6 linked regions of the Homo sapiens genome follow. The gene in region 1 interacts genetically with each later gene. Each region holds a gene or a part of one and is shown on either strand. Other genes may lie near its edges. The genes, in order: NDUFB2, RTF1, SDHC, PGK1, ATP1A1 and FH.

Region 1 (6,008 bases):
GTAATCCCAGCATTTTGGGAGGCCGAGGCAGGCGGATCACCTGAGGTCGGGAGTTCGAGACCACCCTGACCAACGTGGAAAAACCTCGTCTCTACTAAAAATACAAAATTAGCTGGGCATGGTGGTACATGCATGTAATCCCAGCTACTCAGGAGGCTGAAGCAGGAGAATCACTTGAACCTGGGAGACAGAGGATGTGGTGAGCTGAGATCGTGCCATTGCACTCCAGCCTGGGCAACAAGAGCGAAATTCTGTATCAAAAAAACAAAAAAGATCTGAGTAATGCCGATGCCAGCATTATAGTTCAAACCCATCTTAGCAGCTCCCCACGCTTCGTTATTGCTAGAGTGACATGTTGTTTTAATCATAACCTGAAGTAGGGACTGCAAAATGGAAACCTTTTGGAACAAAGATTTGAAAGTCTGCAATTATATCACAGGAACAATGACAAGGATTGCCATGATTAAGGAATGCAAAGACTCAACACCTAATTCACAATGTTATGTTCCAAACCAGGTTGTGAACTGCATTGTGGCAAACTAGATACCCTGAACAACCCTCCAAATTAACAACTCTGCTGCTAGATGAGATTTTTAAGATTTTTACAAACATCACTGACCAGGCACAAAAGGAAGGAATCCACCAAGAGCAAAATTCAAGTAAAAACAAGGCCTGGAAGCTAAGCAATCAATCACTGAAGCTGCCTTCACCGGGAGCCCTTGAACCTCCACCAGGATAGCTACATGAGGTGTGGGGAAAGAGACGCAGCCTGGGGCCCACCCAAGGTGGGAAGGCTAATGACGAGGTCACTGAATAAAGCTGCAACCCCATATGGTAAAAGGGTGAACAAGAAATAAACCTTCCATGGACAAGGGAACAAGAATTTGTTATCAGAAGCCAGTCCTCAGGTAGATTTGCACCCAAATTCACATTACCTGCGTTGGACCTGTGTGGACCAAAAACCCCAAGCCGAGAATTTAATGTGAGCCTGAATTGGGGTGGCACCCTCAAGAGACTAAGAGAAGCACGATCTCAAAGAAATTCCAGGGAAAACAAGCTCAAGATCAAAAAACATAAGGAAGTAAGACACTATCAGCAAGTCCTGTAAGAAGGAAAGAGAATGGGGAAGAAACAACATCCAAGGAAATAATGGCTGTTCCAACTTCAAATGTTTGAGAGTCAAGTTTAAAAACAAAAATGCACCATAACTCTATTAGTTACATTTTTATTTTTATTTTTTTGAGACGGGGTCTCACTCTGTCACCCAGGCTGGAATGCAGTGGCACGATCTCGGCTCACTGCAACCTCTGCCTCCTGGGCTCAAGCAATTCTCCTGCCTCAGCCTCCCCAGTAGCTGGGATTACAGGCGCACACTACCATGCCCAGCTAATTTTTGTGTTTTTAGTAGAGATGGGGTTTCACCGTGTTGGCCAGGCTGGTCTCGAACTCCTGACCTCAGGTGATCCGCCCGCCTCAGCCTCTCAAAGTGCTGGGATTACAGGTGTGAGCCACCGCGCCTGGACAAAGTTACATTTTTAAAAAATAAATCAGACCACATTACTTTCCTGCTTTAAAACTCCAATGGCTCCCTGTGATTCTTAGAATAAAATTCCGAGTCCTCCAAAGCCCCCTCTAATCCGGCCCCCACACTTGTCCCTGTGACCTGGTCTCTCCCACTCTTCCCCTACGCTCCACTCCAGCCTGGCCTCCTGCCAACCCTGCGGGCTCTGGCCTCTCCACCTGATGCCTCCTCTGCCCTCTTATGTCCACCGGGCTCTTCCCTTGAGGTCTCTGCATGGCTGACTTCTCATCCCTCAGGTCCCGCTTCAAATCACACTCCCAGGCATTCCCACGCCATCCCCAAATACAATATCCCTTCTACTCCCACACCACGCATTCTCCATATTAATCCCCAGCTGTATTCTCTTCATAACCCTTAACAGTACTCAAAAAAGGTCTTTCTTTTCTACTGGTCTCTCCTCTCCAGAATGTACACTTCATTCTCTCTCGTATTCTGCTATATCCTCAGCACCTAGAAAGGAGCAGCCATATAGAAGATGCTCCATAAACATTTATGCACTTAATTATCACACACTCTGAAACAAGTGTGTGTTACGAACAAGCCAGCACCTCAGGGAAGATCGGCATTCCCCCATCTCCTCATGCAGGACCAAGGGCTGTCGCTCATGGCTCTCCATCACTGTCTTTGCCCAAGTCACACAGGGCTTTGCCTTCTGCCCACCCCACACCTGCCCCAGCTCCAGATTCTTCATCCATGTGGGACTTCAGGCAAGTCACTCCTTTCATTTCCTGGGCCTCAGTTCCTTAATAACAACAACAGTTAAAGAATACTTGTACGGTCCTTAGCAGGCACCAGCAATTGTTTTAAACACTTTAGTGAGACCAAGCGCAGTGGCTCGCCTGTATTCCCAACACTTTGGGAGGCCGAGGCTGGAGAATCACTTGAGCCCAGGAGTTAGAGGCTGCAGTGAGCTAGGATCGCGCCACTGCACTCCAGCCTGCCTGACAGAGTTAGACCCCATCTCCTAAAACACACAAACACGCTTTAGATAACAGTAACTCATTTAGTTCCTTGCAAATGGACGCCAAATGGGTGAGGAAACTGAGGCATTAAGAGAATAAGAAACTTTTCCAAGGTCCCACAGCTGGAGTGTGGCAGAGGTGGGATTTGAACCCAGCCACTGTGCGGCCAGAATCCCGCTTGGAATCACGACCCCACACTGCCTCTTGGTAAAGTGTAGCTGATGATCTAAGGGACCTGGAATCATCCATGACTCTTTTCCAGTCCTGCTCTTACGGAATCTCTGCACACCACTAACTCGGCTTCGGCAGCTGCTCCCTACCTCGCACCCGCTCCCTACCTCGCACCCCCAGCCCTCCGCCCTCCGGTCTGCGTCTCGGGCCACCTCGCGGGCGGCTCTGCCTGTCACTCTCCTAAACGCCACGGCTGCCCCAGCGTTGGCTTCCGGCTTTCTGCTCCTCTCACCCGACGGCGCTCTCTCTGGGCGACAGCCTCCACTCCCTGCAGCCAGAGTGATTTTTCAGCATTAAAAAGCGGCCACGTGACGTCTCCGATTAAAGGCTGCCGAACAGACTCTACCCTAAATTCCGCAGCCAGGCACCGGGACCCTGGACCGCGCCCTCCCTAGGCCTCACCGCCGCCGCCCCCCGCCTCGCTCCAGGAGCGTCCACACCCGCCGCGCACGCTGCTTCCTCCGCCTGGACCGCCCGCGCCGGCGCCGACTGGCTCAGCCCGCTCCGCATTCACGCGTGCGTCTCCCGAGGGCAGGCGGCCCCTACTACCATGACGGCCCTGCACACGGTGTCCCATCTGCCCAGCGAAGTCTCTCCCTCTCCCTCCGGCCAGCGGGGTCCCTCTCCTCGAGTCGCGGCTTCAGGAGACACGCGGACTACAGGTCCCAGCATGCCTCGGGACGCGGCCTCTTCAGGCGCCCCAGTCAAGGTGAGAGCGTCCCAGGGACCCGCGCTGTCCGCTACAGGCCGGCGAGGCCCCCATCCCCAGCCCCACACTCACTGACGGACTCCACCATCTCCAGCAGTCCGTGCGCAGCCGCTTCTGAAAAGGCGGCCTCCAACGCGAGCGAAAGACGCCAGCCGAGTCAGAGCGGACATACTCGCTCCCGTCCGCCCCGCGGTCCCCAGCCGCCTCGCCCCTGCCTACTTCGCTTCCCCGGCGCTCCGCCCGCGCCTCCCGTGACGTCACAGAGTCGCTCATCTCCAGGAGTGGGGGAGCCGGCAGCCGCTCCTGACCCAGATTAGCTGTGAGTCCTTCGGCTGCAGGAAACCTCTCTCCCGAGAGCAAAGCCCACGCATAACTTATGGTTGCTGAGCTGCCCCATGCCTTCTGAAACAGCTTGTTGGTTGCCCCTCTGATCCTGTAGGGCTCTCCCCGTGTTCTGCCCCTCCTAAAACTGAGTGGTGTATAATTCTTTTTTTTTTTTTTTTTTCTTTTTGAGACAAGGCCTTGCTCTGTCACCCAGGCTGGAGTGCAGTGACACCATCTCGGCTCACTGCAACCTCTGCCTCCCAGGCTCAAGCGATTCTCCTGCCTCAACTTCCCGAGTAGCTGGGATTACAGGCATTGTGCCAGGCTAAGTTCGTACGCAGCAATAGATAATGCCACAAATGGCTTGATTCGATCCACTGGCTTTAAGGCTGGGTTGGCATAGGCTCAGGGAAGAGACTGCCGTCTTTTTGTCCCTTTCCCGCCTCCACACTGTACCTGATGCGCACTGGCACGAGGGGCTGCGTGACCAGCTGGTGTTCTCCCTCCCAGCCATCTGGAGCCATCCCAACCCCTCTCTGCCTGCTTTGAATGTCCCCTCAAGACCTGGGAAGGAAAAAATAACATCACCTCCTTGAAAAAAACTGCACCAAAGGAATCTCTGTCCACCTAAACCATACTGCTCACTAAAAGACAGGAATGAGGAACTTTATCCTGGAGAAGGAAAGAATGGGAGAAACTAGTCCTGTAGTCAGGGCAGGACTCTCGGAGAGCGCAAGGGCTTGACTCCATTCGCTGCCTGGTGGTCTCTAAGACGAGCAACATAATCTATGAAGGTGCAGGGATAAACTGTGATTTTACCTAAAAAAAAAAAAAAAGAGAAATTAAGCTTTACAAATACCCCCCCTCCAGGCTGACCCCGGGCCCCTCCTAGTCAGCCAGACGGCCACATCAGCTCAGCTCTGAGAAGAAAGCCCGTGGTTGGGCCTGGCAGAGAGGGGCAGGTGGTGGTCACTGCAGGTCTGTCCCTGGGCGCTGCCATGGAGAAGAGGACACACTGGTTATATTAACTCTCTTCATATTCACCAAAATTAATGCCTGCAAGTGGACAGGCGCAGACACTGTGGCAGAGAAACTGTAGTTCCGGACTAGCGGGTGAACCCGGGGCCATGTTAAGGAAGTGGCCAAGCCGTTCTGCTCACGTCCCCGGTATGTCAGCCACTTTCATCAGTTTTGTTTTACCTTGTAATAAAAGTTACCAAGGAGTTAGCAAAATCTATTAAAAATTACCAAGAAGATAATTTGAAGTACAATGAAATTTGCCCTAAGTGTATATTATGCTGGCAGGTAGCACCTGCATGATATTTATACATAAAGAGTGTGTGTGTGTGTGTGTGTGTGTGCACATGCCACAGATCAGTAGGACTTGATGGCATTTTCTAACCTGAATATCAAAGTCTGGGAACTACCAGCAGTACCCATCTGACCAGGGAGTATAGCGGGTCAAGAAATGAGAAAAACAGGAAAACAAAATAAATTTATTCGTCCTCCTCCACATAACATTTTCCCTGAAGGAGAGTGTCCCTGGCACCTGGCCCAGCTTCCACAATGGAATGGATAGGCCCCTTCCCTCCTTTTACTCCCTAATTGGCCCAAAGCTTTTGAACAGACCCTCAAACCAAGCAGAGGAAGCCATGGTGTGCCTTCCACCACTGGAGGGTTACATTTGAAATTGGTGTCCCAATTTTAAAACGTCCCAGCTGCCATAGGAGAGGCTCTTGGGAGTGGCCTCCAGCTCTTGACAAGGGCCCACAGAGGCCACTGCCCCATCACGGGGGGCACACTGGGCCCGTGAGGAGGAAGGGCCTCGCTGCCTCCAGGATGTCCAGTTTGGGGTCCAGTGAGCGGCCAAGCCCCTCCAACACCATGATGGCAAACACAATGGAGGCAAAGTTGCTCTCAAGCTTTACCTGGAACAGAAAAACAGAACAGTTCATCTCAGAACATGCTGATACAGGGACGTGTGTTCTGGATAATCACCTTGCTGTCCACTCTCAGCCTCCCTCAGACCTGCCCACGGGATGTTTACCATCTACCTGACATTCTCTTCTCTACCGCGTCATCTCCCCAACCATCTCACCTACTCGCCCAGCCTCCCATCTACTGGACACACTAAGGAAAAATCTAGGGGTGCGGAATATACTTTTCTAGGTTTGTGTCCATGTGTGTATGAATGAATGAC
Region 2 (5,210 bases), on another chromosome or scaffold:
ATCCCGCTTGGAACGCCGTTCCTTGTTGTGGGATGTTACCTAGGAAGGGAAGGATATATAGAATGGCCCTTTTTACCAACAGCTGATAAGATTCTCTAAACCTACTTAATGCATTTAGTCCTCCAACATCAATCTATATGGGCTGCAAAAACTTAGAGCTTTTATGTAAGGGGAGAGAGCATCCTCTTGTGGACAAAGAGGATAGCGCAGTAAAGTAAGCCCTGTCTAAAATGCCTATTCCAAGTTCAAGAATTATCCGAATAAACTCTTTCTGGAAGAACACACTACAACACAGCTAATGTTGGGATTACAGGCATAAGCCACTACACTCAGCCCCACATTATCTTTTTTTGTTGTTTTTCTGAGATGGAGTCTCATTTATGATAAATACAGAGATTATTTTCCCAGCTATATTTATACCAAGTAAAGGATGATATACATCTAAGTAAACATCATAAGCATCTGGCTACCTAGGACAGGTTGTTTACCAACTTTTCCTTAAGGGATGGTCACTCACTAGTGGGCTGCTTTTTTTTTTTAAAACAGAGCCTCGCTCTTCTGCCCAGGCTGGAGGGCCATGGCATGATCTCAGCTCACTGCAACCTCCGCTTCTGAGGTTCAAGCAATTCTTGTGCCTCAGCCCCCCGAGTAGCTGGGATTAAAGGCATAAGCCACCACGCCAGGCTAATTTTTGTATTTTTAGTAGAGACAGGATTTCGCCACGTTGGCCAGGCTGGTCTCAAACTCCTGGCCTTGAGTGATCTGTCTGCCTCGGCCTCTCAAAGTGCTGGGATTACACATGTGAGTCACTGCAGTTGAGGGCTGCTTTTTAAATGCAGACTTCAGTGAAAGCCGGGCACGGTAGCATATGCCTGTAGTCTCAGCAACTCAGGAGGACTGCTTGAGACTAGGAGTTTGAGGCTTCAGTGTGTTATGACTGTGCCAGTGAATAGCCACTGTATTCTAGCCCGGGCAACATAATGAGACCAGGGAAAGGGAAGAGGAAGGGAAGGAGGAAGGGAAGGGGGAAGGAGGAAGGGAGGGGAAGAAAAGGGAAAAAGAAAGAAGAAAGAAAAAAGAAAAGGAAAAAGGAAAGCAAAGGAAAAAGTGCTAAGGATTTAACAGCACAGCTAATGGTGATATGTCCAGAGATTAATGAAACCATGTCACAAGTCTTATAAACTTAGGCTGATTAATATAAATCCACCTTTTACACACACACACACACACACACACACACACACACTCAAAACAGGTTTATTCTTTGGACAATGAGGAACACTGAATCTCCTACCTGAGATTCTTGAATCTGTGTCAGTTTTTTCTTTTCTTGCTCCTCTTCTTGCTTTTTCTTCTTTTCTTTCTTTTCTTTCTTTTTGGCTGTTTTTAGTTTTTTCTTGATTTCAAATCTGGTTAAAAGATATTTGGTTTTTAAGTAGCAATGAAATGTATATAAAAACTGATTTCTATTAGATAGGAGAAAGGAACTAAGGGAAAGGAGCTAATAGATATTTTGGCTTTCCTGCAAGAAACTCTGGTGTACCTTTTAAGTACATTAAAAATATTTAATATGTTAATTACAACAAAATATAAAATATTTGATAGCATTAAGTTGGAATATGTTTAAAATGAGAGACTACGGGCCAGGCACAGGGGCTCACACCTGTAATCCCAGCATTTTGGGAGGCCGAGGCGGGGGGATCAAGAGATCGAGACCATCCTGGCCAACATGGTGAAACCCCGTCTCTACTAAAAATACAAAAATTAGCTGGGCATGGTGGCGCACACTTGTAGTCCCAGCTACTTGGGAGGCTGAGGCAGGAGAATCGCTTTAATCCGGGAGGGAGGTTGCAATGAGCCAAGATCGCGCCACTGCACTCCAGCCTAGCGACAGAGCAAGAATCCGTTTCAAAAAAAAAAAAAGAGAGAGAAAGAGAACATATATAGGGTATTGCTGTACTCATCTGCGCCACTCTAGCCTGGGCGACAGAGTGAGATTCCATCTCAAAAAATAAACAAACAAACAAACAGGCCCGGTGCAGTGGCTCACACCTGTAATCCCAGCACTTTGGGAAACCAAGGTGGACGGATCACGAGGTCAGGAGATTGAGACCATCCTGGCCAAAATGGTGAAACCCCATCTCCACTAAAAATACAAAAATTAGCTGGGCATGGTGGCATGTGCCTGTAATCCCAGCTACTCGGGAGGCTGAGGCAGAAGAATTGCTTGAACCCAGGAGTCGGAGGTTGCAGTGAGCCAAGATCACGCCACTGCACTCCAGCCTGGCGACAGAGTGAGACTCCGTCTTGAAAACAAACAACAAACAAACAACAACAAAAAACACACAATGAAAGACCATTTCACACCCACCAGGATAGCTATTATCACAAAAAGGGAGGCCAGGCACGGTGGCTCACACCTGTAATTCCAGTACTTTGGGAGGCCAAGGCAGGAGGATCACTTGAGTCCAGGAGTTGGAGACTAGCCTGGACAACATGGTGAGACCCTGTCTCTACAAAAATTTTAAAAATTGGCTGGACATGGTGGTACATGCTTGTAGTCCCAGCTACTTGGCAGGCTGAGGTGGGAGAACTGCTTGAGCCCAGGAGATTGAGGCTGCAGCCAGCCATGATCATACCACTGAACTCTAGCTAGCCTGGGCGACAGAGTGAGACCCTGTCTCAACAACAACAAAAAAAGGAAAAGACAAGTGTTAAAGTGTTAGTGAAGAGGTGGAGAAACTAGTACACTTATTGCCGATGGGAAATCTAAAATGATGCAGCTGCAGTTTCTCAAAAAGTTAGAAAGAGTTACCGTACCAGCCAGCAATTCTACTTTCCAGTATACACTCAAAAGAACTGAAAATAGGTACTCAAATTGTTGTATATAAACGTTCACAGCAGCACCAGTCACAATAGCAAAAAGGAGGAAACACCACAAATATAAATCAACAGATGGACAGATAAACAAAATGTGGTATATACATAAAATGGAATATTACTCAGACATAAAAAGGAGTGAAGTACTAATACATGCTAAATGGATAAACCTCAAAAACATACTAAGTGAAAGAAGTCAGTCACAAAAGACTACATATTATGATTTCATTTATATAAAATATCCAGGTCGGCCATGGTGGCTAATGCCTGTAATCTAAACACTTTGGGAGGCCAAGGCAGGAGGACTGCTTGAGGCTAGGAGTTCAAGAATAGCCTGGACAACATAGCGAGACCTCTTCTTTAATAAAAGTTTAAAAAATTGGCCAGGTGGTGGCACACGCCTATAGTCCCAGCTACTTGGGAGGCTGAGGTGGGAGGATTGCTTGAACACAGGAGGTCGAGGCTTCAATGAGCTATAATCATGCCACAGCACTCCAGCCTGGGTGACAGAACGAGACCCTGTCTTGATAACAACAACAATAATAATAAACATATCCAGAATAGGCAAATCTAGAGAGACAGAAAGGAGATTAGTGGTTGCCTAGGGCTGGGAGGCTTATGGGGAAATACAGGAGTGACAAAATGCTCTAGAATTAATTGTGGTGATGATTGCACAACTCTGTGGACATATAAAAACCAATGAATTATACACTTTAAGTGGGTTATTTTAAACAAAGTTATTTTTTAGAGTTAGTGATAGTTTACATTTACATAATGTTCTTATGTATATAATCTCTCTTGAGGTTTACAACAACCCCCAGGAGGAAGCTGAGGCAGGAAGAGAAAGTGATTTAACTCCGATCACCCCTCCAGCGAGTCTGACTTGACCCCTAGACCTTCTAACTGCAATGTCAGTGCCCTTTCTACAACCAGGCTACCTTTTATGCTTCCTGCCCCCATGAATAATCTAACAACTGAAAATGACATCTCACTACTGGTGCTGCTGGCTAGAGAACAGGATGCTAATGGTGCTTACATAAAAAAGACTACAAAGATTAAATGCAATCCATATAAAGAGCTTTTAAAGTAAAAAAGATTCAGGAAATTCCAGAGTTTCCATATTGCACTGCCCTGAAGCTAAACAAACGAACTACTAAAATATCAATTTTCTATGATGGCTCTGAACCTCTGTCTTAATAATCAGCACACTAAACCATTCTTATAGTCACTAAAAAAAGTCACTGAAGCTGGGGGTGGTGGTTCACACCTGTAACCCCAGCATTTTGGGAAGCCGAGGTGGACGAATTGCTTGAGGCCAGGAGTTCAAGACCAGCCTGGGCAACATGGCAAACCCCCCCTCTCTAAAAAAAAAAAAAAAAGAAAAAAAAATTACAGGGCCAGGAGAGGTGGCTCACGCCTGTAATCCCAGCACTTTGGAAAGCCGAGGTGGGTGGATCACCTGAGGTCAGGAACTCCAGACCAGCCTGGCCAATATGAAAAATTAGCCAGGCCGGCGGGCACGGTGGCTCACACCTGTAATCCCAGCACTTTGGGAGGCCAAGGCAGGCAGAACACGAGGTCAAGAGATCAAGACCGTCCTGGCTAACACGGTGAAACCCCATCTCTACTAAAAATACAAAAAATTGGCTGGGTGTGGTGGCGGGCGCCTGTAAACCCAGCTACTTGGGAGGCTGAGGCAGAATAGCATGAACCCGGGAAGCGGAGCTTGCAGTCAGCCGAGGTTGCGCCACTGCACTCCAGCCTGGGGGACAGAGCGAGACTCAGTCTCAAAAAAAAAAAAAGAAAGAAAAATTAGCCAGGCCGGTGTGGTGGCTCACGCCTGTGATCCCAGCACTTTGGGAGGCCAAGGCAGGAGGATCATTTAAGGTCAGGACTTGGAAACCAGCCTGGCCAACATAGTGAAACCCTGTCTCTACTTAAAATACAAAAATTGGCCAGGCACAGTGGCTTACGCCTGTAATCCCAGCACTTTGGGAGGCAGAGGCGGGTGGATCATCTCAGGTCAGGAGGTGGATGGAGACCAGCCTGGCCAACATGGTGAAACCCCGTCCCTGCTAAAAATACAAAAATTAGCTGGGCGTGGTGGTGGGCGCCTGTAATCCCAGCTACAGGGGAGGCTGAGGCAGGAGAATTGCTTGAACCCGGGAGGCAGAGGTTGCAGTGAGCCGAGATTGTGCCATTGCACTCCAGCCTGGGCAACAAGAGCAAAACTCCATCTCAAAAAAAAAAAAAAAAATTAGCTTGACATAGTGGCGCATGCCTGTAATCCCAGCTACACAGGAGGCTGAGGCAGGAGAATCACTGAACCT
Region 3 (5,210 bases), on another chromosome or scaffold:
TGAGCTCAAGCAATTCACCTGCCTTGGCCTCCCAAAGTGCTAGGGTTACAGACATGAGCTACCATGCCCCCAGCCCCACATTTAACAAAACACTAATTTTGACTCTCTTGTGTCTTAGGGATATTAACATATTAATATTATATTATAAGTCACTAAATGAGCCCATGGGGCAAAAGCAGTCTTCATTTTCCACACTTCCCACATACATGGCGCCTTAACACACACATACACACATACACCCACAGTCTGAATGTAAAACTGCCTAAATTAGGAGTCAGTTCAGAGAAAAGATGGAAGCCCAGAAAAAAAAAAAAAAATCAAGATGAGAAGATGCCTCCACCTCAACCCTCAAATTGCTTCTAACTAGGAGATTAGGAGTCAAGCAGATTCCACAAAGAGTTGTTTTGCTTAAATAAGGACAATGTTTTATAGAGAGTGAGTCCTACTGGGTAGCAGTAGTAGGCAGGGATATTCCCTAGAATGCCACAGACCCTATAACATCCTACTCTTTCACTCCTCACTCCCCCATTAGATCTTCTGGCAAGTCAACTATCAAGTTCAGAGGCCAAAAACTGCAGACTGTCACAGAAAACACAAAATCCTGTCCCACACTCACAGCCAGTACTTGCTAGAAGAAAAAATAAAAGCAGACTTAAGGACCCTTAGGTTCTTCACTTCCCTCAACAAAAAGATTACCATCACAGGCAAGAACCAGGGCAGAAAAGCTCTAAGTTCTGCAATTTTATAAAACCTCCCCTCTCTTACCCCCATATTGAGACAAAGACAAATATAGGGCAAGTCTCTGTCTGAGCCAAAATATGAACAGAGGAAGCTGATCAGCTGATTTTCTTTACAGAGCTTTGTTCTGTGGAATAGGAAGTCATTAATGGAAATGTCCTCCCTCTCTACTGCCTCCCCCTCAGGGAAGTAAAAAGTCATTTTAAATCAAACTGAACACTGCCCCAGGGAACAGTTGATACAGACACTTAATTTAATAAGTAATTTAGTCTCTCATTTTTTTTATTCCATTAAACTGTCTATTGGACCAGACTGAAATCCAGAAAGTGCTTGTCTCTAAGGCTATGATTTGGAAGTAATAAAAAGTCAAATTAAGGCAAAAGCATCCATCTGACAGTTGACTCAGATTCAGAAGTAATGAAAATACAGAAAGAACTGAATTTTAATTGCCTTCTTGGAAGCAAAACTAGGGAGACTACAAAATATAAAATCTTTTCTTTTTTTTTTTTTTGAGACTGAGTTTCACTTTTGTCACCCAGGCTAGAGTGCAGTGGCATGATCTTGGCTCACTGCAACCTCTGCCTCCTGGATTCTCCTGCCTCAGCCTCCCAAGTAGCTGGGATTACAGGCACATGCCACCACCCCCAGCTAATTTTTGTATTTTTTTTTTTTTTTTTGAGACGGAATTTCGCTCTTGTTGCCCAGGCTGGATGGAGTACAATGGCATGATCTCAGCTCACTGAAACCTCTGCCTCCCGGGTTCAAGCAAGTCTCCTGCCTCAGCCTCCCGAGTAGCTGGGATTACAGGCATGTGCCACCATGCCCGGCTAATTTTGTATTTTTAGTAGAGACAGCGTTTCTCCATGTTGGTAAGGCTGGTCTCGAACTCCCGGCCTCAGATTATCCGCCCGCCTCGGCCTCCCAAAATGCTGAGATTACAGGCGTGAACCACTGTGCCCGCCTATTTTTTTTTTAGATGGGGTCACTCTGTCACCCAGGCTGAAGTGCAGTGGCACAATCTCGGCTCAGTGCAACCTCCGCCTCCCAGGCTCATTCGATCCTCCCACCTCAGCCTTACGGGTAGCTGGGACCACAGGCGCACACCACCATACCTGGCTAATTTTAGAAACCAGTTTTGAGCAGACGATGAGGTCACATAGGAGGCAACATGGACAGTTTCCAATCTATTAAATGATTCCTGCCATGTGCAGTGGCTCGCGCCTGTAATCCCAGCACTTTGGGAAGCCAAGAGTTCAAGACCAGGCTGGCCAACATGGTGAAACCCCATCTCTACTAAAAAATACAAAAAAAAAAAAATTTGCTGGGTGTGGTGGCAGGCACCTGTAAGGCTGGCCAACATGGCAAAATCCCGTCTCTACTAAAAATACCAAAAAAAAAAAAAAATTAGCTGGCCGTGGTTGTGGGCACCTGTAATCTCAGCTACTTGGGAGGCTAAGGCAGGAGAATCACTTGAACCTGGGAGGTGGAGGTTGCAGTGAGCTGAGATTGCACCATTGCACTCCAGCCTGGGCAATGGAGCAAGACTCTGTCTCAAAAAAAAAAAAAAAAAAAAAAGATTCCTAACCTCAATATTGAAACCTGGAATTCTTGGCACCCAGTTTCTATTAAAGTTGGCCCAATTCTGTCCAACATCTCAAAACAGAAATGCAATATAATGTGTAGATAAGAAAAGGTAATCTATTTGAGTCCTGTCAGAAGCACTACTCTGGGTCAACAGGAACGGAAGAATGAAAGCAGCAACAATGGTTATCTAGCTCATAACTGAATCCCCAGTGTCTACAACAGTACCTGACACATAAATAGGTACCAATTAATATTTATGTCATAAACATGCATTCTATGCCTTCAGGGATCTCTTTTAAATATCCCTCTTAAAAATGAAGAGTTCAGCAGGGCACAGTGGCTCACGTCTGTAATCCTAGCACTTTGGGAAGCTGAGAGGGGTGGATCACAAGGTCAGGAGTTTGAGACCAGCCTGGCTAACATGGGGAAACCCCATCTCTACTAAAAATACAAAAAATTAGCCGGGCGTGGTGGGAGGCGCCTGTAGTCCCAGCTGCTCGGGAGGTTGGGGCAGGAGAATCTCTTGAACCCAAGAGGTGGAGTTTGCAGTGACCCAAGATCGCGCCAACTGCACCCCAGCCTGGGAGACAGAGCGAGACTTTGTCTCAAAAAATAAAATTAAATTAAATTAAAAAAGGAAGAGTTCCCAATGAGACCCTGCAAGTATCTGTGAGGCCTATACCATTGCTCAGCTACACCACCAGCAGGACTGCCAGGTAACACACAGGGGAACTTGTGAACTTGTCTGGCTTTCCCCAAGAGGACTCTGAGTCACAACTAACCTTAAGAACAGCACTAGCTGGGCGCGGTGGCTCACGCCTATAATCCTAGCACTTTGGGAAGCTTAGGCAGGCGGATCACTTAAGGCCAGGAGTTTGAGACCAGCCTGGCCAACATGGTGAAACCCCATCTCTACTAAAAATACAAAAACCAGGAGTGGTGGCATGCGTCTATAACGCCAACTACTTAAGAGGCTGAGGCACAGGAATCTCTTGAACCCAGGAGGCAGAAGTTGCAGTGAGCTGAGATCGCACCACTGCACTCCAGCCTGGGCAATAGAGCGAGACTCCACTCTTGGGAAAAAAAAAAAAGAACAGCACTAAACCCAGTAATGAAGGAAAGAATCCTCCCAGTCTCCCCACTCCCTTCACAGAGAAAATGTGCAAATCCCGAATTAACTTACCAAGTGTCGGATCCCATTCCAGGTATGATACATGAGAGGGAAGACAAGTGCAAACTTAGCTGTGTGGATCAGTGCTGGCCCCAGACACAGGGACTTCACAAGTTCCAAATAAGACTCAAAGTTCCCAGGGAGTAACAGGGCCGACATGCCAAAAAGAGAGACCCCTGAGGAGAAAACCAAGTAGCTTGTCACAGCTGCTCATAAGTTACAACTAATATGATACATAAAACTGGGACCCCTGGCACCTCATACAATTCTAAACCATTTTGAAATGGAGAAGATTTTTGTTTTCTTTTTTTCTTGAGACAGAGTCTCATTCTGTCACCCAGGCTGGAGTATAGTGGTGCAATCTTGGCTCACTGCAACCTCCACCTCCCAAGTTCAAGCGAGTCTCCTGCTTCAGCCTCCTGAGTAGTGGGGATGACAGGTGCCCACCACAACGCCCAGCTAATTTTTGTATTTTTAGTAGAGACAGGGTTTCACCAAGTTGGCCAGGCTGGTCTCGAACTCCTGACCTCAAGTGATCTGCCCACCTTTGCCTCCCAAAGTGCTGAGATTACAGGTGTGAGCCACTGCACCCGGCCTTGAAAAGGAGAAGATTTAAACTCATGTTCAAGTTTATGATGGGAGACAGACTACTTGGGATCTCATCATAAACTAAATGTGCCATATGTTTTAGTATGTTATTCCTCCTTTCAACATCCGTCTCTATAAAAACTTCACTTGCCAGTTTAGACATCAAGCCTTGCTATATCATCTAGTTCATCATCTAACTAAGAAAAGGTAAAAACAGTGTACTCAGTCCAGAGAAGAGTCAGAAAAAAAATTAGGTTCTCTTTTTTTTTTTTTTTTTTTTGAGACAGAGTCTCGCTCTGTTGCCCAGGCTAGAGTGCAGTAAGCGTGATCTCAGCTCACTGCAACCTCCGCCTCCTGGGTTCAAGCCATTCTTGTGCCTCAGCCTCCCAGGTAGCTGGCCTTATAGATGCATGCCACCATGCCTCGCTAATTTTTGCATTTTTAGTAGAGACAGGGTTTTGCCATGTTGGCCAGGCTGGTCTCAAACTCCTGGCCTCAAGTGATTCGCCCACCTCAGCCTCCCAAAGCGCTGGGATTACCAGCATGAGCCACTGCGCCTGGCCCTTTTTTTATCTTTATCTTCTAGTGTTGCTACCTCTGAAGAGAGGAAAAATTTTAAATCATTCAAATCTCTATTACACAAAAATTTAAATTAAAATGAATTAGAGACCTAAATGCTAGAACTAAAACTATAAAACTCTTAGTAGAAAGCATAGAAATAAATCTTCATGATCTTGGATTAGGCAGTGGTTTCACAGATGACACCAAAATCATAAATGACAAAAGAAAAAACAGATGAATTGGATTTCATCAAAATTACTAACTTTTGTGCTGCAAATAATACCATCAAGAAAGTGAAAAGACAACTCAAAGGAATGGGAGAAAATATTTGCAAATCATGGAGGACTTTTATCCAGAATACATAAAAAACTCTTACAACTCAATCAATAAAATGACAAATGGATCTGAATAGACATCTTTCCAAGGACGATAAATAAATGGCCAATCAGTGCATGAACAGGTGCTTAACATCATTAGCCATTAGACAAATGCAAATCAAAACCATAATGATATAATGTAACTGCTATGTGTATATACTTGGAAGATTATTTCCCTATGTGAAAGAAAA
Region 4 (5,210 bases), on another chromosome or scaffold:
ACTGAAGGGTACTATTTGTTTCTAGAAGAAACTTTGGTGTGCAGCCCTGAGTTCTGGTCTTGGTGGAGGTGGTGTTTAAGTAGCTTTTCTTGATAGCTCATCTTCTCTTTCACCTCTACCCCTCAGGGCTTGGACTGTGGTCCTGAAAGCAGCAAGAAGTATGCTGAGGCTGTCACTCGGGCTAAGCAGATTGTGTGGAATGGTCCTGTGGGGGTATTTGAATGGGAAGCTTTTGCCCGGGGAACCAAAGCTCTCATGGATGAGGTGGTGAAAGCCACTTCTAGGGGCTGCATCACCATCATAGGTAAGCGGTCCTATACAAAGCTAATACCCATATAAGCTGGCAGAATTCTGATCAGAGGAAGGTGGAATGGAGAACTTCTTCTATGTCTCTTTATTCTGGGTAAATGTTAAGAGGTAAACAGGTAGGTAATTTACAGAGGAGCCTCTTGGTAAGATAGAGTTGGGGGTTTATCAGCTACCTTTTGGGTTGGGGAGCACACTGCCTTACAGTTTTGGTGCCAATCCCTTTTTTTTCTTTTCTCTCTTTTCCCTTTTTACCTGGCTTTCATTCAACAGGTGGTGGAGACACTGCCACTTGCTGTGCCAAATGGAACACGGAGGATAAAGTCAGCCATGTGAGCACTGGGGGTGGTGCCAGTTTGGAGCTCCTGGAAGGTGAGGGTCTTCTGTTTTTTGGCTTGTTTGGGATAAGGGTGGACTGTGCAGTGAGAGGTGGGTAGAATGGAGTGGAGAAAGTTAGAAGGTAGTGTTGTCATTAGCAGTCATTACTACCTGGGCAGTACAGAGGAACTTCAGATAAAGCTCCTGGCATCCACTGAGGCGGGGAGGGACAGATAGAAACTTGGTCTGAGAGTTATGGTCTAGTAGACCTGGAATCCACAATGTAAAAGTTGGCCAGCTCCTGGCCATATATCCTAAAAAAGAGCTGGCATGTTATTGGGAAGATAAAGTGGGGGAAATCTGGCTTACTGGGCCCTATAGTAATGCTGTCTATGTATGTGTGCTCTCTCAAAAACAGGTAAAGTCCTTCCTGGGGTGGATGCTCTCAGCAATATTTAGTACTTTCCTGCCTTTTAGTTCCTGTGCACAGCCCCTAAGTCAACTTAGCATTTTCTGCATCTCCACTTGGCATTAGCTAAAACCTTCCATGTCAAGATTCAGCTAGTGGCCAAGAGATGCAGTGCCAGGAACCCTTAAACAGTTGCACAGCATCTCAGCTCATCTTCACTGCACCCTGGATTTGCATACATTCTTCAAGATCCCATTTGAATTTTTTAGTGACTAAACCATTGTGCATTCTAGAGTGCATATATTTATATTTTGCCTGTTAAAAAGAAAGTGAGCAGTGTTAGCTTAGTTCTCTTTTGATGTAGGTTATTATGATTAGCTTTGTCACTGTTTCACTACTCAGCATGGAAACAAGATGAAATTCCATTTGTAGGTAGTGAGACAAAATTGATGATCCATTAAGTAAACAATAAAAGTGTCCATTGAAACCGTGATTTTTTTTTTTTTCCTGTCATACTTTGTTAGGAAGGGTGAGAATAGAATCTTGAGGAACGGATCAGATGTCTATATTGCTGAATGCAAGAAGTGGGGCAGCAGCAGTGGAGAGATGGGACAATTAGATAAATGTCCATTCTTTATCAAGGGCCTACTTTATGGCAGACATTGTGCTAGTGCTTTTATTCTAACTTTTATTTTTATCAGTTACACATGATCATAATTTAAAAAGTCAAGGCTTATAACAAAAAAGCCCCAGCCCATTCCTCCCATTCAAGATTCCCACTCCCCAGAGGTGACCACTTTCAACTCTTGAGTTTTTCAGGTATATACCTCCATGTTTCTAAGTAATATGCTTATATTGTTCACTTCTTTTTTTTTTATTTTTTAAAGAAATCTATTTCATACCATGGAGGAAGGCTCTGTTCCACATATATTTCCACTTCTTCATTCTCTCGGTATAGTTTTGTCACAATTATAGATTAGATCAAAAGTCTACATAACTAATACAGCTGAGCTATGTAGTATGCTATGATTAAATTTACTTATGTAACTTTTATTGTCTTTGGCATTAACAGTGTTTCAAAAAATTTTCTGTGTATACCCATCAGTGATTCATTCCCAAATCTTCTAGAAGCATAAGTGTCTCAATATATTAAAACATATTGAATAATCCTTGTTAGAGTTATCCCTGCAGGAGTCCTTAGTGCTCCTTTATCCAATTTGTACTTGATGCCCTCTAGGCAGGGTGTACAGCTAGCTGTTGCTCTGGTATTTCCTATAACCTTCTTGGGGATTTCTTTTACCTCCTGTGTTAGACTCCTGTTTTCTGGATTCCCCCTTTTCCCTCTTTCTTGGTCTACTTTTTGTAGAACACAAGACTCTACTAGCTTCCTGAGAAAGGGTGCCTGGGAGGCAAAATCTCTAAGACTTTGTAAGTCTGAAAATGTCTTTATTCGACCCTTATACTTGATTCCTAGTTTGGCTATATATAGAATTTTAGCCTGAGTATCACTTTTTGAGACTCGAAGCCACTGTTTCATTGTCACTATTGAGAATCTAAATGGCCATTCGGATTCTTTCATCATCTTTATAATTTTACCTTCCTATTTCTTTCCTGTCCTTTTAATGGAGTTTTGGGAGAGAGCAGAGGTAAACATGATTTGAAAAAGCCATGTCTGACCAGAAATTCTGTGCTGGAAAGATATGTATTTCACCTTTAGGGACAAAGAAATAAACTTTTGGACAGGACCACAGAGCTAGTAAGTAACAGCAGGGATTCAAGTCCAGGTTTGTCTGGTTCCAGTGGCTGATGCTTTTCCAATGTGCCTCCGTCCCTGACATGATGCTTCTAGGCTATAGATGCTTCTAGACTCTATCCCTGACATGATGCTTCTAGACTATTTTGTTTAACCCTGGATAGAATAGCAAAAGAAAATTTTGGTGGTTGCTCTAAACAAAACAGAAATTTGAAAGCTCAAGTTTTTTCTTCATTTGTATTTTAGTTAATACTGTACCCATATTTGTAGTTAATTTTAAATTGTACCATGTTTCTGCATACCTCTATGGGTACTCAGGAATTCTAGTCCAATTTTTGTGACTTTTTCCTACTGATTACCTTTCCTCCAACGTTTTAAAAATTATTTCAAATGGAACTGAAAGAAGCATAAACTCCCATAAACCCAGCACCTAGACTCTACAATTGCCAACATTATCTATCCAACAATCTCTGACTGTACCTTTTAAGTACTTTCTACTGGACTGTTTCCAGGATCACCCCTCATTTATTTGGGTTGTTAACCTAAAGAATGAATGGGGGAATCTCCAGTCATAAACAACTTGTCAATTAGGCAAATATTTGAGTTCCTTCTATGTGCTTAAAGACGTGATAGAGGGAATATAAGAGCATTTATGTTCTGAAGGAATTTTTAACCTAACCAAAGAAGATAGTAGATAACTTGTGTGCATATAAGCTAGAACAGTATAAGGGGCCGGGCATGGTGGCTTACGCCTGTAATCCCAGGACTTTGGGAGGCCAAGGCGGGCAGATCACCTGTCAGGAGTTTGGGACCAGCCTGGCCAACATGGTGAAACCCCGTTTCTACCAAAAATACAAAAATTAGCCGGGCGTGGTGGCGTGTGCCACTGTAGTCCCAGCTATTCAGAAGGCTGAGGCAGGAGAATCACTTGAACCCGGGAGGTGGAGGTTGCAGTGAGCTGAGATCACGCTACTGCATTCCTGCTTGGGCGACAGAGTGAGACTCTGCCTCAAAACAAAAACCCCACAAAACAGTATAAGGATGTGCTTTCTAATTTGGAATTATGAATTATTGGTAAAATATTGCAAAGGTGTATGCTTTAAGTTGTAAATTCACCTTTAACCCTAGACTATATATGTGTGTTTATATGCAGAAAAAAATAATTCCCATGTCGTAAGTGAACAATTTGGTTCTTTAGCTCAGTGTTTTCCTGTTTTCTTCATTTCCAAAATTTCCCTCTAGCACAGGGGTTTACACATGATCAAAAAGGAGTATACAATGAAGACACCTTCCTCAGTCCCCTACCTACCAGTTTCCCTCCCCAGAAGCAACCTCTGGAAGACCAGTTTCTTTCAATCTAAGGCTATTTAATATACATTAAGAGGCCGGGCGCAGTGGCTCACGCCTGTAATCCCAACAACACTTTGGGAGGCCCAGGCAGGCGGGTCATGAGGTCAGGAGATTGAGACCATCCTGGCTAACACGGTGAAACCCTGTCTCTACTAAAAATACAAAAAATTAGCTGGGCGTGATGGTGGGCGCCTGTAGTCCCAGCTACTCGGGAGGCTGAGGCAGGAGAATGGCGTGAACCTGGGAAGCGGAGCTCGCAGTGAGCCGAGATCACGCCACTGCACTCCAGCCTGGGCAACAGTGAGACTCTGCATAAAGAGCATACCCATGTGTGTACCTATCTATCTATCTATCTATCTATCTATCTATCTATCTATCTGTATATAGATATATTAAAATGTAAATGGTGGCATACCTGCTGTTCTGTAGTTGATTAGTGTTTTCTTTCCTGCCTCTTGAATATTCCCTGTCACCTTGGATCCCTTAGAACATAGTGTGCATCACATCTTCCATTCTCACCCCGCCCCATGCTGGCTATATTCCTATATTCGTACTCAGATCATAGACACTTGTTTGCTACCCATAAAAGGAAGAACTGGAGGTAACAGTGTCCTCATCCCATTTACCATCAGCACATATTATTTTTTAAAAATTCCACCTAGAAGCTGAAGGACAACAGATTTAAACCCATATTCTTCTACTCATTTTCAATTTGCTTCACTATGATGGTGTCACATGCTGATTCCAGATAAAAGCAAGTGATTTTCTGATATATAACCATTAAACAAATCTTACTGGTCTTTGGCCATCAGAATTACTGGGCTTTGTTCATCTCCCTTGAATCCTAAAAAATGAAAACACTGATAAGCTCAAATTTTTATTAACCTTGGAACAAATGCAATAATTCCTTACAGTCATATAGCATTTTACAATTCTGAAAGAATTTTCACATATACCAATTGAACCCTCACAACAGCCCTGTGAGGTAGGCAGGGTAGGTGTTACTTTCCTACTGCTAGTGAGGAGAACAAGGCTAAGAGGTGAAGTAAGGTCACACAGTTGGTAAATGATGGA
Region 5 (5,210 bases), on another chromosome or scaffold:
CTCTTCTGTAGCAGCTTGGATGCTATAAGCCAAGAAACAAAGAATCGCTCCAATCCACAGTAACATTGAGAACCCCCCAAAGAGCTGCCGACAAAACTTGATCCATTCAGGAGTAGTGGGAGGGGGAGTGAGGGCGTTGGGACCATCTCGCGCCAGGATCTCAGCTGCACGAGCAGATGTTAATCCCTGAGAAGCAGTGGAATATAAATAAGGCAAACTGTACCAGCACTTACAAGGCAATATACCTACCTGGTAGCTGGACGGTTGCAATAAGGATTTAAGGAAGAAACAAAATGTCCCAAGCTAGAGAGCCAAGGTAAAACCTAGCAAATTCCTCCATGAATAATTCTGCTGATGAGCCAGTCCCCACAGGGTTCAGGCAAACAATAGGCCCAAGGAACTCATAACACCCAGATTAAAACTCTTTAAATTGATCCATCAATAAATTTGAATTCAGCCTGGTTTCTTCTAAGTTTTAGATCAAGGGATTAATGCCAAATTGCATTTCTGCCAAAAAGGTATCTATTTTCACAAATCCATTCAGTTTTGCAAATTAAGAGCTTTGGGTTTTCTGTGTATTGATTTTGTCGGGAGGGGAAAAAAAACCCCTCTACAAACATCAAAGGAGAAAAAAACTTCCTGTAGAAATCCTTTGGGTTAACAGCCAAGTTTTAAATATACAGCTTGATTCTTTGCTTGTCTGGCAGGGAAGGGCTCACCTCCATGTGCATTTTAGCCACCTCCCAATAAACCTGTTGACTGAAAAGTACTCACTGGAAAAAACCACTCTACTAAAGCCTGCTATTTTTCTAATGGGCCTTAAACCCAAGATTCACTGACAGCAGGCAATTACATATAAGCTCTCATTAAGAGAGGAAAATATGATCACTTTTATACTCTCAAAATAACAAGTCAAAAAAAAAATAAAATATTTTTGTCTAAAGTATCTATTTATCTGTGTTTTGTGCTCATGTTACCAAACATTTGAGTGCTATCTACATGCCAGGAACTGAATTCAGTGCTTTAATTAACTTGTTTAATTCTCATGACAATCCTTTTTTAGGCATTATTAACCTCATTTTATAAGTAAAGAAATAGACCCGCAGCATTTGAGTAATGGGCATAGGTCGGAGAGAGCACACTTCATTAAGACTCTAATAAAAACTTAAGTGAGATGTGAAGTGGCTAGAGACTGCCTGGCACAAAGTAAGCACAGAGTCACTGTTGGCATGTTGTTCTGAGCTGACTCGAGGCCTCCTCTTGGAGCTTAAAGTGCTTGTGTCAAGAAAAACGCTCTCAACCTTGTTCTTCTCTCCTTTTTTTTTTTTTTTTTTTTTTTTTTTTTTTGAGATGGAGTTTCACTCTTGTTGTCCAGGCTGGAGTGCAATGGCACAACCTTGGCTCACTGCAACCTCCACCTCCCAGGTTTAAGCAGTTCTCCTGCCTCAGCCTCCCGAGTAGCTGGGATTACAGGCATGCACCACCATGCCAGGCTAATTTTGTATTTTTAGTAGAGACGGGGTTTCTCCATGTTGGTCAGGCTGGTGTCGAACTCCTGACCTCAGGTGATCCACCAGTCTCAGCCTCCCAAAGTGCTGAGATTACAGGCATGAGCCACCGCACCCGGCCTCTTCTCTACTCTTACACCCCAACAATCAACACAGAAGATGACTTCTGTGAGCAAAGGTGTGGCGGTTTCTCCCCACCACCAAGGTTTCCTCCAATTCAATTCCAACACTATCTACCTGGAAAATCAGAAAAGTGGAACAAGATTAGAGTCCTGCCTTGCGACAGGTGAAAAGGAGGGCAGGAGAGAGATCCTGTTTCTTGAAGCCTGCCACTGAGGTCTAACACACCCAACATTATAACAAACGACTGTAATAAGGGCTATGGGAGTTATGAACCAGGAACTGTGGACAAAAACCAATATATATCAGAATACCACAGTACCCATGTCTCTTGATGCCTTACTGAAAAAATGCTACATATTGGCTTGCTATTCAAGTTATTCCCAGACATTTCAGTGATTATCTGGAAATAAGACATCCCTAGACTATTTACTTTTATAACATTTGTTACACATTTAATATCAAAATCCTCTACATAACAAGGATACATAACGCCTATTTTATGAAAAGGTTTCTTTAATTTTTGTACAAAACAATTTCCAACTAAATGATAGAATAACTAAACAAATGATAGTATAACCATAACACACTGCAATGGGCTAGCTGGGAAAAGTGCAAAAATGGGAATTGTTGAAGATTCAACTAGGTGAAAGATTCAACTCTATTTAACAAATGTAGAAAAATAAAGGGAAAATTTATCATCAAAAGGTCAAGGCATAAGCATGGCTTTGAAGCCAACTGCAAGTCCTGGTGTTCCCACTTACTGGCTCTCAACTGCTATAAAATAGGGAAAAGAAAATAACATCTACTTTCAAAAAGTTTCAGGGAAAAGAAACGGTAGCATATAAATGCCCAAATTCTGTGCATGTCACATGGTAGATACGCAGATGGTGTCTGTCATTTTCTTACTAGAGCCCCTGAGGTTAGACCTGTATGTAATACAGGGGAAAATATAATACGGAAAACTAGGATTTTGTACAACAGCTTTCAAACTAGAACATACCCGGCTCAAGTCTGTTCCATATTTACGATGAAGTTCATCAAGGCTAAGTTTATGATCATCCTAAGGGAAAACAGAAACAAAGAAAATAGTTAAACAGTGTAGTATAAAAAAATGACAGAAAAAATAGCATTATTCATTACTATCATTAAGCTTATTAAACAAAGTGCAGATGTTTTCTTCAGTGCATAAGTTGGTACAATTTTCACCATCGCTTTGTGGCTTTGCAACCACACAGTTATCATTGACAGCTCTTCACTGGAGAATGGCTAAAGCTGAGTGACCGTGGCCCATTACTATTTGCCATAACACTTCAGAGAAACCCAGCAGCTCTCAGGGATCTAGTAAAACCTTATCTGCCTTCTCTGATGACCAGGTCGATTCTAGACAGGTTAAGTCTATGGAAGCTTCCATCGCCTGGAGAGGCTGAATTTCCCAATGTTTGATATAATACAGAGAAAAGCAAAGACTCATGGTATCAACCTAAGTTCCTTCTGTTATCTCTGGTTATGCCAGAGTGACTGAATAACTTTTCCTACCCTCTAACAGCTTTTAAAAAGTATATGTTCAACATTAACCTCTACGACTAGATGAGATCTGTACAGCTGCTATGATCTCTTTTAATATATAGCAGTTCTTTGAAGAATACAGTGAGGCCTGGGGGATTAAAAATCATGGATTTTTAATAAGGATGGAATACAATATTCCTCCTAGTACTTACCATAGAAACTTCTTTCTTCAGTTCATCCATGTCCCTGTCTTTTTTGCCCTTTTTGCCCTTTTTATCACCTTGTTCTGAAACAGCTGCAGGCTCATACTTATCACGTCCAACCTGTAGGAGAATGTGGGAAAAGTGAGGCCATGAATTATGAACCTCATCTGAAACTGAAAATTCTGGAGCAGGGGATTTTGGTAGTTTTTAAGGTAGTCATAATTTGGAATAGTCATTAAGATAATAGTCAGGAAAATGTATACCCATATATTGCCTACTACATAAGCAAAGCAATCTACTATTAATACATTGGCTCAAGATACATTCTCTCCATCCAAGAGCATTAAGAACAATACTGAAGCTACCGGTAGGCTTCAGAATGGCCCTGCCAGTGCCACTTCCTTTTGGGGTTAATGAGGAGATTTTTGCTATCAAAATCCCTATTCTGCAGCCTTCCATCTTCCCTACTGAAAGAATGAAACTAACTTTACATTATTAACTTAGAGTGCAATATTGTGCTTATGAGTCCGCATTCTCAATCAGACAGCCTTGAGTTAAAATCCTGGGCTTTACCACTTACCAGCAGTGTATCCTTAGGCAAGTTACTAACTTCTACATTTCAATTTCCTCTTCCACAGCGTGGAGATAAAGAATAGTGCCAACCTCATTTCATGTTTTTAAGGATTAAATGATACAATACATCTAAATGCTAGTACTTTTATACTGTTTATATTCTTTGCTTTGCAAAGACATTATTACATATCAAATTTAAATATCTTTAGTGCTCACATAAGAACACTGACCTTTACCAGCTTCCCATATTAAAAAGTCAGCCTAAGACTCCTTAAAATTCTTTGCATAAGAGATAAAAAAGGGAGCGCCCAGCCCATTCTGTAGCCTGAAAATAAAACCTCCAAAATGAAAGTCTCTGGAAATGTTTTGACATAAGCAGGATGTAGGAAAAGCGTGTGCATTATCACATAATTCACAGGATCCACCTACGCCTCTTGAAAACTGGAACAATTTTTAAAGAAAATGTTGATTCTATAGTTTAAATTTAGATTGTTCCACTCCCCCACCCCTGTTGAAAAATCCTTGAGCTTATCTACACAAAGCCTGAACTTGGTGCTCCAAAGCTTAGCGGAGCAGAAGAGCCCCTTGTTCCAGACACCTCCCCCTGAAGCAGCCTCCCACAACTACAACTTAAGGCCAAAAAGTAGACATTAGCAATTTTCTTAAAATGCATGACATATGGTGCTATTACTATTATTTTGTGGTTCTCCTTTACTCATTTCTAACTTTCCTAAGTGCATTACCAGCTACTAAAGCAATAATTAGGAACTCGTGTCCAGATTATAATTTCACTGTGCTGAAATGAAAAAAGAAAATCAAAACGTATTATGTGTGTTTCAGTCATAACTAATAGTTGCAAATAAAATACATTGTTCACTTAAATTTAAAAATATCCTCTTAAGACTCCAAGGAGAAATCCTTCTCCAAATTCACTGGAGTGGGCCACATGTAGAGACACATTATTTACCTTTTTAACTTCTGTGGTCACGTGTGCAGCACTACTTGACTAATAACTTCTTCCAACTGGGTGGGTTCTTTAGTTTCTATCTTATCTATTAATGAAGCAGGTCTAAAGATAGTCAACATTCTTGACATTCTCTCCATTATGGAGCAACCACATTTGTTGGTGCCTCTTTCGGTACAGCTCTTGGTGCCAGAGTTTAAATGAAAAATAGTAACACATACAAGTGGACAAATAAAACAAAAAGGAAAAGGCAGGTCATCTACCAGAAAGGAACCACAGCTAAAGTGGTATATCTTTAGCTTTAATTAAAGGTATATCATACCTTTAATGAGA
Region 6 (4,400 bases), on another chromosome or scaffold:
TTGCTGGTGCTCAGCAGGAATATCCAACAGATGTTATTGCCAGAGTCAGCATGCTAATGAGCTAGTAACTTGAAAATGTGAGTTCACTAATAGCTACTTCATTGCACAGATGTCCAATGAGCAGTAATCACCAAATGTAGAAATAAACGCTGCCCAGATTTGCCCCTATTTTTGTTGTATTTTTATACATCCAGCTTATGTGTTAGTTTTTGGATGGTGTGCTTTGTAAAATATGGGTGGTTAACAATCTTCTGGAATGATTTTAGCTTAAAAAATCAGAATGCACTTGAGAAATCTATTACCTTGAACAACTGGTCCACTTTAAAATAAAACTTTTTTCTGGTTATATAAAAATATGTGATTAGTGTAGAAAATTTTGAGAACTGAGAAAAGTAAAACAGTCACTATAGTTCTATTGCTCAGTAATTATGACTATTAGCATGTTGGCATCCCCAGTCTCTATCTCATGCAATGAGGGTGTGTGTGTGTGTGTGTGTGTGTGTGTATATGAGAAACACACACTTTCTGTTCATTTTTTCCTAAACAAAATTAGGATCGTAAAATACATATATTTTTGCAAACTTTCCTCCCTATTTCTCATAGGCTAGGCTTTGTGCATGCCAATCTTCAAAAAAGTAATTTTCTATAATTTACCATATAAATATAATTTATATAAGTAGCTGTTATAGTTACGCATTGTCTAATTTGTTTTCATTATTATAAATAGTGCTGTAATTAACAACACTATATATACAGTTCTGTTACCTCTGATTGCTTCTTTAAGACAATGTTATTAGCATATTAGTAAAATTACATTCTCAATATGCATTATCAAATAATCAACTGGTTTTAAAAAGATTTATATATAAAATAAAAAATCAAGTAAAGTTCAAATGATATCTTTTCAAAAAATTTTCTTAAAACTATATAAATTAAGGAAAGTCAAAAGGCTTAAAAACAAAAGGTATAAAATCATCCAGAAATTTTGTCACAATGTAACGTTTTAAGCACCATATTAATATCACCACTAAAAATAATGCTACCACCCTCCCCTGAAATTCATTAATTCAAGAATTCACAGTTCCCCTTTCCTTCTGCCAGAGCATATCGTCATCCAGAGTATGGCATGGGTCTGAGGTTATTAAGCAAACACACTTATCACCTCCTACCTCATCTGCTGCCTTCATTATTGCATTAGCAATCTTTGGATCAAGACCATAATCCTGGTTTACTTCAGCGGCCGCTCGCTTCAAGATGCCAAAAGCTTTAATAACTGGGGTCTAAAATTAATCAGAAAAATATTTCAAATTTACAATTTTACTTAAGCATGGAAGTTTATTATTTTGGCAGATGCAAAAGCTATACATAAAACAATAACAATAAAACAGTAACACTATAGCTCTAAAATGTTTCGGTTATAGAGAAAGATTATAGACAGGAATTCATGAACCAAGAATCAACATTATCATAGATCTATTTGTTTAAGGAACCAAATAAAAACAAATACATTGACTCTTCATATATATATGTGTGTACGTCTCCCACATACATATACACACATATTCACACGAATACAATCCTATGCACAAATACACACAATAAATTATATGTGTTTATTTCATATACTATAAATAAAAACAAATTTAGTACTCAATCTTTTCACCAGCAAGAACCATTATTTTCTCTTACTGGATCCCACGTTACATTATAATTGTTTCCTTCCCCTCTTAAAAAAATAAATAAATAAGGGATATATTTAACTGCCAATCAGTATGAGACTACCAGTGACTGACTGGGTTATCATTTCACCCCAAGGCCAAAAAGCAATCTATTCTACTTAGCTAGTAAAGCCTTAATACTCAGTAACTCCCTGGACATTTCTCTCAGAAGAATTATTTTTTTAAACCCAAGATTCTCCAGACCTAAAGGTGACAGCTTCCGATATATATAAAACCCCATTAATGCAGATATTTTCATTGTCTATCCCAAATCACCTCACCAAGCTTGAAAAGGATAAACTGAAATGAAAACCTAGTTTTTATAAGACAAGTGAATTGTGAGTTCTTGTCAAAATTAATAATACAGATTGTTGTATAGATCCCACACCAGGTTTGAATGGGGAAAGAGTAGAAGGGAGAAAGGGAAGAAAGGAAGAGAATGATGAATGTATAAGAGAGAACCTGCTATCTCTGGAATCAAAGTAGAAAAAGCCAAGAAAAGTAAGAAATAAGACACATTAAAAACATAAACCTGGACCAGAGTAAGTATAAGCTGAGGGTCAAATAGAAAAGGAAAACCAGAAAATTTGAAATTTCAATTTTAAGTAACTAAAATTAAAACATTAGAAACGTTTGACTCAAACGAAATGAGGACAGATGGCACACAGGATTAGAAACTTAAAAACTTTAAACACAAAAACAAATGGGAATTTAAATCTCCACAGTAACAAACACTGAGGTAGTGGGCTGAACCACTACCAAGGGCAAAGGTGAATGCCAATCAACGCTGGCCATCTGAATGGAGTGAATGACCCCCAGTGTTTATGGACCATAAAAATAAAAAAGGGTCATTCACAGCAGAAAGAGGTTCAACGAACACCATAAAATGGCAAAATGTATCACTAGAGAGAAAAGACAGGTCACTTTATTCTTAATTTATTCACATTAGATGTTCATAATCTTTTTAGCTTTGTTTTCCTCTGGACCTCAAGTAAAAAGGGTTGAGTTTAATCATACTACTCAGTTTAGAGTACATACAGACTGTTTTACACATAATAAAGTTCAGAAAGTATGACAAAATCGAGACCCCAGGTGTCTGCCTTTCACAGGTGTGCAATCCCAATGGCTGTGCTGTCTCTGGAGCAGCAGCAGCAGGAACCATGCCCCACCAGAACCACAAAACATGCTGGTGACACAGATCAATGAAAACGGCAGCCATGCTCACTCCCACCAACACTAGCTGGGGCTGACCTCCTCCTTAGTCTCTGGAGTTGAATAATATGAGATTATTTTAGGATTGGTCACTACCCTTTTTCACCTAACCACGTAGTCAAACTATGTTTACCTCACCACCAAGAAGGCTGTAGATGGCAATGACAAAGATATTCTCATCAAAGATTCAGCTGCCTGTTGTAAAGTTCTATATACCTGTCAAGAGGCAGTCTTGAAGGCTTAGGAATGACTTAAAATTATTGAAAATAAAAGCATATTTATAAGATAAGTGTTAAACAATATCTCACAGGATGAAGCCTATCTACTTCTAGGCTTACTAGCCTATCCTGCATTGACTATTTTTCATACTCCGGTTGGGCTCCCGTAGAATATGTTATGCATTTCTCAATTCTTTTCACACTTTAACATCTCTGAAATCAAGATGTATCTTGTAATCAATGGTAAGTCACAACCTTAATTGGTAGCATTTTTCTTTCTTAGTGGTGCCTATTGGTGCATCTTCTAATTAATGGCATCTTAAATTTAATTGAATGTGGTAGAAAGTTTTCTCATCATTTAATCATTCATATGGAATTGAATAAATACTTATATATTATCTATTATATGTCAGACATGGTTAAGAGTAATACTTTGATGTGTTTGTGTACTATACACTTTTTAGGAAACTGAAACCAAAATACAAAGTGTAATTTTAAAAAATCTCAGTTTTAAATTAGTGGGGGAAAAAAGAATGAGTATTGAAATAAAAATATTTACAAACTGTAGAACCCTAGTAAAAATCTGTAAATACCCAGCAAGAGTGAAAAGACAATCATTTAGTTCTGCCAAATAAAAATCCAAAATAACTATTCACAATAGCAAAGACATGAAATCAACCCAAATGTCCATCAATAAAGGATAAAGAAAAAGTTGTATATATCCACCATGGAATATTATGCAACCATAAAAAAGAATGAGATCATGTCCTTTGCAGAGATATGGATGGAGCTAGAAGCTGTGACCCTCAGCATACTAACAGAGGAACAGAAAACCAAACCCGCATGTTCTCACTTGTAAGTGGGAGCTGAACAATGAGAACATATGGACACAAGGAGGGGAACAAAGCACACAGGGGCCTGTGGGCGGAGGGGGAGCAGCAGAAAAAATAGCTAATGCCGGGTTTTAATATCTAGGTGATGGGTTGAGAGGTGCAGCAAACCACCATGGCACACATTTACCTATGCAACAAAACTGCATATCCTGCATGTGTATCCCGGAACTTAAAATTAAATTAATTTTTTTTTTTTTGAGACGGAGTCTCACTCTGTCGCCAGGCTGGAGTGCAGTGGTGCGATCTCAGCTCACTGCAACCTCCGCCTCCCGGGTTCAAGCAATTCTCCTGTCTCAGCCTCCAGAGTAATTGGGACTACAGGCGCGCGCCACCGTGCCCGGCTAATTTTTGTATTTTTA

The links.
Region 2: changes in NDUFB2 (region 1) and RTF1 together harm fitness less than expected from each alone (positive genetic interaction), as found in Homo sapiens cells (one large-scale study listed by BioGRID).
Region 3: changes in NDUFB2 (region 1) and SDHC together harm fitness less than expected from each alone (positive genetic interaction), as found in Homo sapiens cells (one large-scale study listed by BioGRID).
Region 4: changes in NDUFB2 (region 1) and PGK1 together harm fitness more than expected from each alone (negative genetic interaction), as found in Homo sapiens cells (one large-scale study listed by BioGRID).
Region 5: changes in NDUFB2 (region 1) and ATP1A1 together harm fitness more than expected from each alone (negative genetic interaction), as found in Homo sapiens cells (one large-scale study listed by BioGRID).
Region 6: changes in NDUFB2 (region 1) and FH together harm fitness less than expected from each alone (positive genetic interaction), as found in Homo sapiens cells (one large-scale study listed by BioGRID).

What each region holds. Positions count from the first base shown.
Region 1 is NC_000007.14:140,694,391-140,700,398, reverse strand, and holds the start of NDUFB2 (NADH dehydrogenase [ubiquinone] 1 beta subcomplex subunit 2, mitochondrial precursor), read right to left. Parts: upstream 3,692-6,008; 5' UTR 3,655-3,691; coding exon 3,557-3,654; intron 3,485-3,556; exon of another isoform or gene 3,322-3,484; intron 1-3,321. Other genes in the region: ADCK2 (uncharacterized aarF domain-containing protein kinase 2), read right to left, coding at 5,596-5,736. UniProt on the Homo sapiens protein: Accessory subunit of the mitochondrial membrane respiratory chain NADH dehydrogenase (Complex I), that is believed not to be involved in catalysis. Complex I functions in the transfer of electrons from NADH to the respiratory chain.
Region 2 is NC_000015.10:41,460,970-41,466,179, reverse strand, and holds part of RTF1 (RNA polymerase-associated protein RTF1 homolog), read right to left. Parts: intron 1,410-5,210; coding exon 1,295-1,409; intron 40-1,294; coding exon 1-39. UniProt on the Homo sapiens protein: Component of the PAF1 complex (PAF1C) which has multiple functions during transcription by RNA polymerase II and is implicated in regulation of development and maintenance of embryonic stem cell pluripotency.
Region 3 is NC_000001.11:161,355,136-161,360,345, reverse strand, and holds part of SDHC (succinate dehydrogenase cytochrome b560 subunit, mitochondrial isoform 1 precursor), read right to left. Parts: intron 3,670-5,210; coding exon 3,506-3,669; intron 1-3,505. UniProt on the Homo sapiens protein: Membrane-anchoring subunit of succinate dehydrogenase (SDH) that is involved in complex II of the mitochondrial electron transport chain and is responsible for transferring electrons from succinate to ubiquinone (coenzyme Q).
Region 4 is NC_000023.11:78,124,748-78,129,957, forward strand, and holds the end of PGK1 (phosphoglycerate kinase 1), read left to right. Parts: intron 1-126; coding exon 127-304; intron 305-579; coding exon 580-678; intron 679-1,042; coding exon 1,043-1,083; 3' UTR 1,084-4,548; downstream 4,549-5,210. UniProt on the Homo sapiens protein: Catalyzes one of the two ATP producing reactions in the glycolytic pathway via the reversible conversion of 1,3-diphosphoglycerate to 3-phosphoglycerate.
Region 5 is NC_000001.11:116,382,264-116,387,473, reverse strand, and holds part of ATP1A1 (sodium/potassium-transporting ATPase subunit alpha-1), read right to left. Parts: intron 4,105-5,210; exon of another isoform or gene 3,921-4,104; intron 3,461-3,920; coding exon 3,350-3,460; intron 2,692-3,349; coding exon 2,632-2,691; intron 187-2,631; coding exon 1-186. UniProt on the Homo sapiens protein: This is the catalytic component of the active enzyme, which catalyzes the hydrolysis of ATP coupled with the exchange of sodium and potassium ions across the plasma membrane.
Region 6 is NC_000001.11:241,512,434-241,516,833, forward strand, and holds part of FH (fumarate hydratase, mitochondrial), read right to left. Parts: intron 1,281-4,400; coding exon 1,170-1,280; intron 1-1,169. UniProt on the Homo sapiens protein: Catalyzes the reversible stereospecific interconversion of fumarate to L-malate. Experiments in other species have demonstrated that specific isoforms of this protein act in defined pathways and favor one direction over the other.